2 separate regions of the Homo sapiens genome follow, and region 1 is linked to region 2. The links come from fine-mapping of genetic effects on gene expression. A gene starts in region 2. The other region holds a variant in brackets. All regions are shown on one strand. Distances are from middle to middle.

What was found. PIP is the estimated chance that this variant, and not a neighbour inherited with it, causes the effect. A credible set is the group of variants that fine-mapping cannot tell apart.
Region 1: its variant is the best candidate, but not a certain one, in a credible set for the expression of POLN in whole blood (TOPMed, PIP 0.77).

Annotation. Positions count from the first base shown.
Region 1 is chr4:2,169,780-2,174,163 of GRCh38, forward strand. It overlaps POLN (DNA polymerase nu), which reads right to left. Exons shown (of 26, transcript NM_181808.4): 11 at 4,176-4,240; 12 at 1,319-1,402; 13 at 900-995. Among named protein-coding and RNA genes, the nearest start is that of HAUS3, 70 kb to the right of the region's middle. RefSeq lists an enhancer at 3,666-4,384. The variant G/C (reference allele first, on the strand shown) is at 2,436.
Region 2 is chr4:2,240,193-2,244,511 of GRCh38, forward strand. It overlaps POLN (DNA polymerase nu), which reads right to left and starts at 1,929. Exons shown (of 26, transcript NM_181808.4): 1 at 1,859-1,929; 2 at 1,328-1,598. It overlaps HAUS3 (HAUS augmin like complex subunit 3), which reads right to left and starts at 1,929. Exons shown (of 6, transcript NM_001303143.2): 1 at 1,859-1,929; 2 at 1,328-1,598; 3 at 1-901. The coding sequence starts at 754. It also overlaps the pseudogene COX6B1P5. RefSeq lists enhancers at 1,112-1,613, 1,220-1,319 and a silencer at 2,000-2,359.

The sequences.
Region 1 (4,384 bases), 70 kb before region 2:
AGGACGGGCCCTTCACTAAGGTGGAGAAAGCTTGAAGAAGAAGAGGATTTGGAAGAGGGCAGTTTCAAGTCCCTCCAGTGGAGCATCCTCTGTGGGAGTCCATTATTCACCCAGTAACTGTCCATTAAACCAGCAAAGGCCAAGTGCAGGCACAGTCAACGAGCTCAGGCTCCTTGAGGGCCTGTACTCTAAGACACCCTCACAGGGCGGAGACTGGAGGAACGTGGTGCTGGAGAGGGAATAGGGCCAGAGGAGACATCTTAGAAGGAAACCTTCCTCTGTTACAAAGTCGAATGCTGGACAGAGCACAGAAAGCACAAACTGGAGCCTCAGAAGCTGGTTCTCACCACAGTAACCAATATTCACAATAACATGAATTCACTTATTTACTGACTTCCACTCTGTGTCTTTTCAGTAAAAGCACTCACTGTCTTCTGAATATCGATCTATACTCTCCCACTCCAACACAGCACAATCTCACTACTCCTTGTCTTCAAAAAAAATTGATTCCTCTCAAGAGAGGGGTAGGTAAAATTCTCTAAAATAAATCTGAGGAAAGGAGAAGACTGATGACCCGTTTCTAGTTCCTCTTGGGGACACGAAGCAAAGAGGTTGTGACTGGATTGTCAAGAAATTGGTTTTAAGAACAAAACTCCACCAAATTATGCTTTTCAGGAAGTCAAGCCAATTAACTGCTTCTGCAAAAGTGTACTGTCTGCCTCTCTCCCTTGGTCCATAGCGAGAAAAGCAACCTTGGTGTGGGGAGCCCCTCTTCTGCAGAAACTGCTGCCAGCATGAGGGGACGGCCTGAGAGTCTCGGGTGGGTCTGAAGGTCAGCACACATGTGGTGCAGACATGCTGTCATTCTAAAAAGAAAAAGGATAACTCTGAAACCTTACCACTGCTTCTGATGTAGACGGGTATTTCTGCAACCCCGTTCTGGGGAGACTGTTCCTTTGACTCAGCAGGTGCAGCTTTAACTTGCCAAAGAGGATCTTCAACAAAACAAATTAAACATGGTGAGGGAATCTCACATTTGAGAGAAACAGAACATTACTATAGCAGAGCCCATGCCAACAGCCAGAGAAGACACACCCAAACAGACATTACAACATGCTTAAATTCTCATTTAGTACTTTTCTACAAGTTAAAGGCTTTGAAGTAATGAATCTCAATGTGTTCATTACTTGTGAGAGAACATGAAAAACTTACTTTTCAGATAGTTGACATAAAATAATACTTATAAATTCAAAATAAATCTCCCTTTAACTCCTGAATAAGAAATACATTTTATGAAAGAACCAAAATTCAGCTTTACCTCTCGAAGCTGGTTATTGCTCGTTATAAGAAACCGTTCTCCTGCAACAAAATGAGCTTCTTGCTCCAATTCCTTGAGACGAGCCTGAAAATATGATACACACAATTAATTTCATTCATAGTTTTCACAATTTAAGATTGTTTAATTTGTTCATCAAACAATTCTCAACAGCGAGATGGGCACGGTGGCTTATGCCTGTGATACCAGCCCTTTGGGAGGCTGAGGCAGGAGGATCACTTGAGACCAGGAGTTTGAGACCAGCCTGGGCAACATAGTGCGACCCCACCACTAAAAAAAAAAAAAAAAAAAAAAAATTAGCCAGGCATGGTGGTACACACCTGTGGTCCTAGCTGCTTGGGAGGCTGAGGTGGGAGGATTGTATGAACCCGAGGGTTCAAGGTTGCAGTGAGTTATAACTGTGCCATTGCACTGCAGCCTGTGTGACAGTGAGACACTGTCTCAACAAACAAACACATACACACAAAATTCCCAAAGAAAGCTCTTAAAAGAGTAATAAATAACCTATAATTTATCAAAATAAGCATAAAAATACACACTTTGGCCAGGCACGGTGGTTCACACCGGTGATCCCAGCACTTTGGGAGGCCGAGGCAGGTGGGTGTCTTGAGCCCAGGAGTTTGAGCCCAGCCTGGGCAACATAGTGAGACCTCATCTCTACAAAAAAATAAAAATAAAAATAAACATATTTTGCCTCATGGTGAAATACCTAGGCTCATAGAAGCATCCTCCCCCAAAGGTAAGAAAACAAACTTAAAGTAGTAAAAATAATGGGAAAGAAAGAATCAATTCTCCAACAATATTAAGACTAGAAAAGGGATCCAACATCACATAGAACAAGACAGAGGTAGAAAGTATAGGAAACAGGCTTGTATCCAGAATACATCAGGATATCCTATACATCAGTAAGAAAAAATATAAAAATGGGCAAAAGACTTGAGCAGATCCTTTACAAAAAGAAATTCCTAAAAGCTAATGATGCTATGAAAAGCTAATCGATCCCACTAATGTGAAATGTGACATACAAAAATGATATCACTCTGGTCCAGAGCTCTAAAGTAGAGTCAGGGAGCCATTCTAAGGACTGCCTGCATGACCT[G/C]AAATGCTGAAAAACAAAAACAAAAACAAAAAACAGGAACTTGAATTGAACCTCTGAACTGGGCTCAACTGCAATGACCACAACATCCTGGAAAACAGCTAGATTTTGCCAGTGCTGCACCTTCTGAAGAGCGACAACCAATGAGCTCAACGGACTCATGTACTAAGCCAACCGCCTCCAACAATGATAATTCTTTCACAACAACTGTGTATTCGCCCTTAGCTTCCTTTTAAAAATCTCAACTCCCCTTCCTCTCTTCAGAACACTTATTGGCCTTTAGCTGAACCTGTGTCTCCTGAATTGCAGTTTCTAAGACCCCAGGAATGCCTTGTCTAACTGCTTTGCAGTCTGCTCTTTCACCTCTTCTTGGTTGACATTAGTAATCAGGAAAATAGAAACAAAACTCATAATGAGATATCATTATAGCCTCACCAAAATGGCTACAATGTAAAAGTCTGATGCACCCAGGGGAAGTGAGGATGTGCAAGAATGGGATCCCGTATGCATTCTCATGGGTGAGACTCTGGGAAGCCATTGGGCATTATTGAATAAAACTAAGCAACAGCTTCCCTGTGTCCCAGCAGCACTAGTCACCTCACAGCCCACAGAAACCTGTGCCCACAGGCACAGGGAATGCACTCAGAGGTACAGCGTGGTTTGTAACGACTGCCACTTGGAAACAACCACACGCCTATCGGCAGTGGGACAGAGACACCAAGGGCAGCACAGTCCACAGCGGGAAACTCCACAGCACTGAGTGACACACAGAAACACAGGTGGAGCTGAGATGTAGAAGGCTGGGTAAAAGGCCACACGTAAGTCACTGTTTACTTACAGTTCAAAAGCAAAGCTAAACTACATTGCTTAGGCTTTGAAGTGGGAAAGCTAGAAAGAAAAGCAACGATGAAAAGGCTACAAAAGTCAGGGTTGCAGTTACTTTTGGCAGCAAGAAAGGGGTTCTGATAGGGAAAGCACACAGGACTCTGGAAAGTCTGTGCTTTGAACCAGGTGATGGTTATATTGGGGTTTCCTTTAAACATTTTATTTTAAAGATGCTCCTGGCATGTGCTTTAGCCTTTTTAAAAATTTGTGCAGATGTATGAGGTACATGAGAAAATGTATTACGTGTATATAATGTGTGGTGGTCACGTCAGGGTATTCAGAGCACCCATCATTCAAGTTCAATACCTTTTTGTTAAGTACAGTCATCCTACGCTGCTATCAAACACTGAATTTATTTCTTTTATTTTACTGTATGTTTGCACCCTTTAGCCTGCTTCTCTTCATCTTTGCCCCGCCCCGCCACTGCTCACCCTTCCCAGTCTCTGTGTCTATTTTCCCACTCTCCACCTACATGTGTTTTCTTAAGAAAACTGAAGTAGAGCATTTTTAAGTATTTTTTCATGCATCTTTACACATCTCTGTATTTTTGTTTTTCAAGAAACCCAAGAATTCCTTCACCAAACTACAGGGGACAATGTCCCTGTAAGAAAAACGTAACTTTTGAGGAGGATCCTGAGGAGCCATTAAAGAACTCCCCGGACACACACGCACTAGATGCTGTTTAGGTCTTTTCAATGCTTGGTTCTCCCCTGCAGGCGTCAGAAAGAGGGAGAAACACTGTCAACACCAAACAAGGAAGAGAAGAAAAGGAGAATCTACTCTAGACCTGCCACTGGGAACAACTATCTCATGCAGGAAAGAGATGGCCAGTACAAACCATCTGGAATAATAACTTACCCCAAGAAGTGCTGACGTCTTCTCCATCTCCTCTTTGTTCACCTGAATGGCATGGCTTTCCATCACTGTGATTCGAAACCCAAACCAGATCATATTTGCATTAATGTATTCTTTTTACTAAAGACTAAAATGCTTCGCTCCCTGATGAGGACAATAATGACTGCAACTGCCATTTACTCAGCACCTGCTGCATGCCAACCTCTGCACAG
Region 2 (4,319 bases):
GATTATCACAAATAGATGGTGTCTGTATATCTAAAAGTTGAAAATTGTCTTCATTTGAACTTTCAACTACTTCATGTATACCCTGAAAGAACTGTTTTTTGGTATACAAAGTTAATGCTGCTGTGCTTTGCTCTTCCTGACTTAGGTATTTTTCCAAGGAAAATTGCGATAAAAATACCAGTGGATTTGTCCCTTGACCTAAATTAGAATGTCTGAAGAACATCATCAATTGTGTAACTTCATCAGTAAGAGCCTGAAGTTCATTACTGATCTTAGTGATCATTGCATTTAGAATTCCTTGACTCTGCTTCAGCTTTTTAGTGGCTTCTTCTTCTTTAGCATTTAACCTCAGAGATTTGTGGCTAGTTACTGAAGCCATCAATTGACATTTATTACGTCGCTGAATTTTTAGGTTCTTTAATTTCAGTAGAGTTTGAACCTCATCCTCTAATTTCTCCAGCTCTTTATCATCCAGTCTAGGTGTCTTCAAATCAGAAGTTTTACACGTTTTAAGAGCTTCATCCAATGCCGCCCCTTCTAGAATAGGCTTGCCTGATTTCTGAAGAATGCTAAAAGCTTCCAATTCTCTTTCAGACAACACGTTCTGTTCATTCACATTCCCACAAAACCACTTCAGAAACGATTCATCTTCAACGCCCTCAAACAACCAGTCAAAGTCTTCTCCATTAAGATTATCAGCTTTGGGATAACCAATTTTTTTTAATGTTTCCACAAACTCATTTCCACAACTCATGGTTTTAACTACCCCAATTTTGTTGTATCTGATATGGGTTTACGGTGTTGATTTTTAGAAAATAAATCCAAGCAGAAAAAAAGCTACGTTTTATACCAAGTCCACAGAGAAGGGAAAATATATTTTTAGAATCTATAATGATTCCTCCTAGGGGGGAAGAAAACAAGTATTAGACCACAAATATGACGACAGTGTTTTTAAAAAGAAGACACAGACAAATATCACATGATATCCGAGAGCGGGATAAATGACAGGTAGTCGTAGCTGCAATGTTTGATGATGATAAAGAGAAACAGAAACAATTAGGCTAGTTCTCAGAAAACCGCAACAGTAACGAAAAGTAATTAACAAGAAAGTGGATCTATTTGGATCCATTTTATCTTTTTTTCCAAAGATAAAATGGTTTAAAATGCATTACACTTTATAGAGCAGCATTTGTTTTTAATTCAAAATAAATGGATCCAAACAAACCCAAGCCACCAGGAGGCTAGGCAGCCTCTCTTCCCTGCCCTCCGTACGTAAGAAGACGCAAATAAGCATGGCACATCTTCTGAAGATCAACTAAATATTTACCTCAACGTCTCGCCGGGCAAGGCTCCACCTCCAGAGTCCACCACCGCGACGCGGAGAACAGCAGGAGCAGCAGGGAAGCGCGCGGCCACAATTAAGGGTGCTTCGGGCCGGCCTTCAGCCAGCGCTGAGGCAGCCCCGACGCCAGGGCCGCGCGAACCCCAGAGGCAGCGGCAAGCCCCAGGGATCCGCGGCCCCAAGGCCGCGATACACCAGACGCGCCAGCGGCAAAACCTTCCTTCGGAGGGTCACCCAGCTGTGACACCTAAGCACGCTGACAAAACAAACGCACAAGCCCACCGAATCGCCGTCGACACCGAGCTGCAGAAGACGGGGGTGACAGGCCCCGCACAGCCCCCGCCCCAGCTCCTCGCCCAGCGGACCGGGCCCTGATCCCCGGGCAGCTGCTGGAGCACCTGGAAGGAGCCCCCAGGAGCGCAGGAAAAAAAAGAGGCACCTGGGTGCAGACGGGGATCGCGGCCACTCCTCCAGCCCCACACCCCTGCGCCCAGAACCGAGGCCCGCGTCAGTCACCTCAGGAAGTTCCGCTTGCTTCTCGCAGGAGCCCGCCGCCACCGCCCTCCGTGCCCCGCGCGCCTCGCACTGCCTCACGGGAGCGCCTGGACGCGCGCAAGCGCACAAGGCGACGGCGTGGTCGTGGGGGATGACTGTTTGCGCAGGCGTAGTGTCAAAAGAGGCGGAGTCGGCGAGGCTGGACTATGGGGTGGAGCTGAGCAGGCGGCGCTCGGCCCCCGGCCGCTGCGGGCATCCTGCCTCCTGGGCGGGGCGCAGGGCAGAGAGAGGCGGGGTCTGGGCCGGGAAGGGCGGGGACAGGGCCTGGACAGGGGCGGGGCCTGGGCAGGGGGCGGAGCCTGGGCAATGAATGGGGTGCAGAGGGGTGCAGAGGGGTGCGGTGGGGCGCCCTCTGGGGAGCTGAAGCTGCGGGCCTGCTCTCAACGGAGCCGTCAGTTGTGCTTCAGGCCTGCCCTGCCCCGTACTTCAATCTAGACCCTCTGAAGGCACTTTTGAATGGTACAAAGAGCAGCGCAGGTTGGTGGTTGGGAGACAGGCTGGAGCCCGGCGGTGATAGCGCTCGCCCCCGAGAGAGACGAGTTCCCGGAACATTCACAGCAGCCCGACCAATGCCTGGTACATTTTAAGGGTTAGGGATTGTTCGCTTAGAGTCTTTTACAATGAACTTTATTTTGCAAAAACACTTAATTTCTAATCCCTCACCAGAACACTATGTAAAAGCTGACTTCTGGCCGGGCGCGGTGGCTCATGCCTGTAATCCCAGCACTTTGGGAGGCCGGGGGGGGGGGGGGGGGGGATCATGAGGTCAGGAGTTCGAGACCAGCCTGGCCAAGATGGTGAAACCCCATCTCTACTAAAAAATACAAAAATTAGCCGGGCGCGGTGGTGGGCGCCTGTAATCCCAGCGACTCGGGAGGCTGAGGCAGGAGAATCGTTTGAACCCAGGAGGTGGAGGTTGCAGTGAGCCGAGATCACGCCACTGCACTCTAGCCTGGGCGACAGAGCAAGACTCCGTCTCAAAAAAAAAAAAAAAAAAAAAGCTGACTTCCTCCACAATTCCCTTTTCAAAATGTTAGAAATAAACGGAATGGCCTGAGTTAAATACATCGATATATTTAACTCAAGGAGGATGGTACACCATTTCCAAAGAGGATGGCAGTCAGTGAAAGATGACTGAAACGGGATTGCTAAATTTCATGTGAATCTGGCTGATGCCCTACAGCCCAGTGAAACCAGACCTCTCTATTGGACAGAATTCGTTTGCATCTCTACCAAACAAAAATCCTTTGCCACTCCTCAGTCTTCCACAGGTTAGCAGGGGCTTTGGTCATGGGTAAATATAATAGTACTCCCTCCCTTCAGCGTCAAATGACCCTAAAGGTGGCTTGTTAGACAATGTCCTAGTCCAGGGTGACTAGGTAGAAGTCGTTTGGATAGTTTTTCTTAATATTTTTAAGGAGAGAAATAAGAATGTTCTAAGGCAAATATTGTAATCTGATCGAGTCAAAGATATTTCCTATTCATTCTTCACTTGTTTCACGTTTTTTTCCTCCTCTTTTAAAAGTCAATAAGGCCTAAAATGATCTGAAAAACAAACATGATGGGAAAAAATTCAAAGAGTGGTGCCCAATCTGCAGGCAAGGAAACCAGGGATGCTGGAACGGGGAGGCCTGGTGGGAGGACCCTTGCAGCCCAGGGTTGGAGGTTGGGGGTGTGCATCAGGGGGCAGAGTTGAGCCAGTTTGGACAGGAGGAAGTGGGAGCTGTGCAGGCAATGCCTTCCAGAAATGTTGCTGATGAGGCAAAGACTGGGTGGGAGGAGTGTGACACAGAGAGAGAGATACAGAGAGACAGAGAGAGACAGAAACAGAGAGACAGAGACAGAGAGACAGAGACAGAGACAGAGAGACACAGAGAGACAGAGACAGAGAGACAGAGACACAGAGACAGAGACAGAGAGACAGAGACACAGAGAGACAGATAGAGACAGAGACAGACAGAGAGACAGAGACAGACAGAGACACAGAGAGAGAGAGAGAGGAGAAAGACAGAGAGCGAGCATGCAAAACAACACAAGCTGAGGGGGTGGGAATGCAGGGCTGAGGGGAGGATTTTTTATTTTGTTTTGTTTGAAAATGAGAGGAACTCGGGGATATTTATAGACTGCAAGGAGGAACTCTGAGGAGACAGCATTAAAGACGGCAGAAAGACAAGGGGCTCCTTTATAGAAAGAGATCCCTGGAGGGCAGGAGGGGTGCACTCCAGAGCCCTGGAGGCCGTTCTAGAAACCCACTTTCCTAGTGACTCCTGGGTGGTTTCTTGGGCCACAAATTAATTCTCCATCTGATTTTGAATTGCTGACCATAGTTATTTGTTGGAAAGGTGTTTATGAGACCATAAAAGCCATAAAACCATTAAGTAAAAATTACAACAGTATCAGCCCCTGGAGTACAAATGACAAA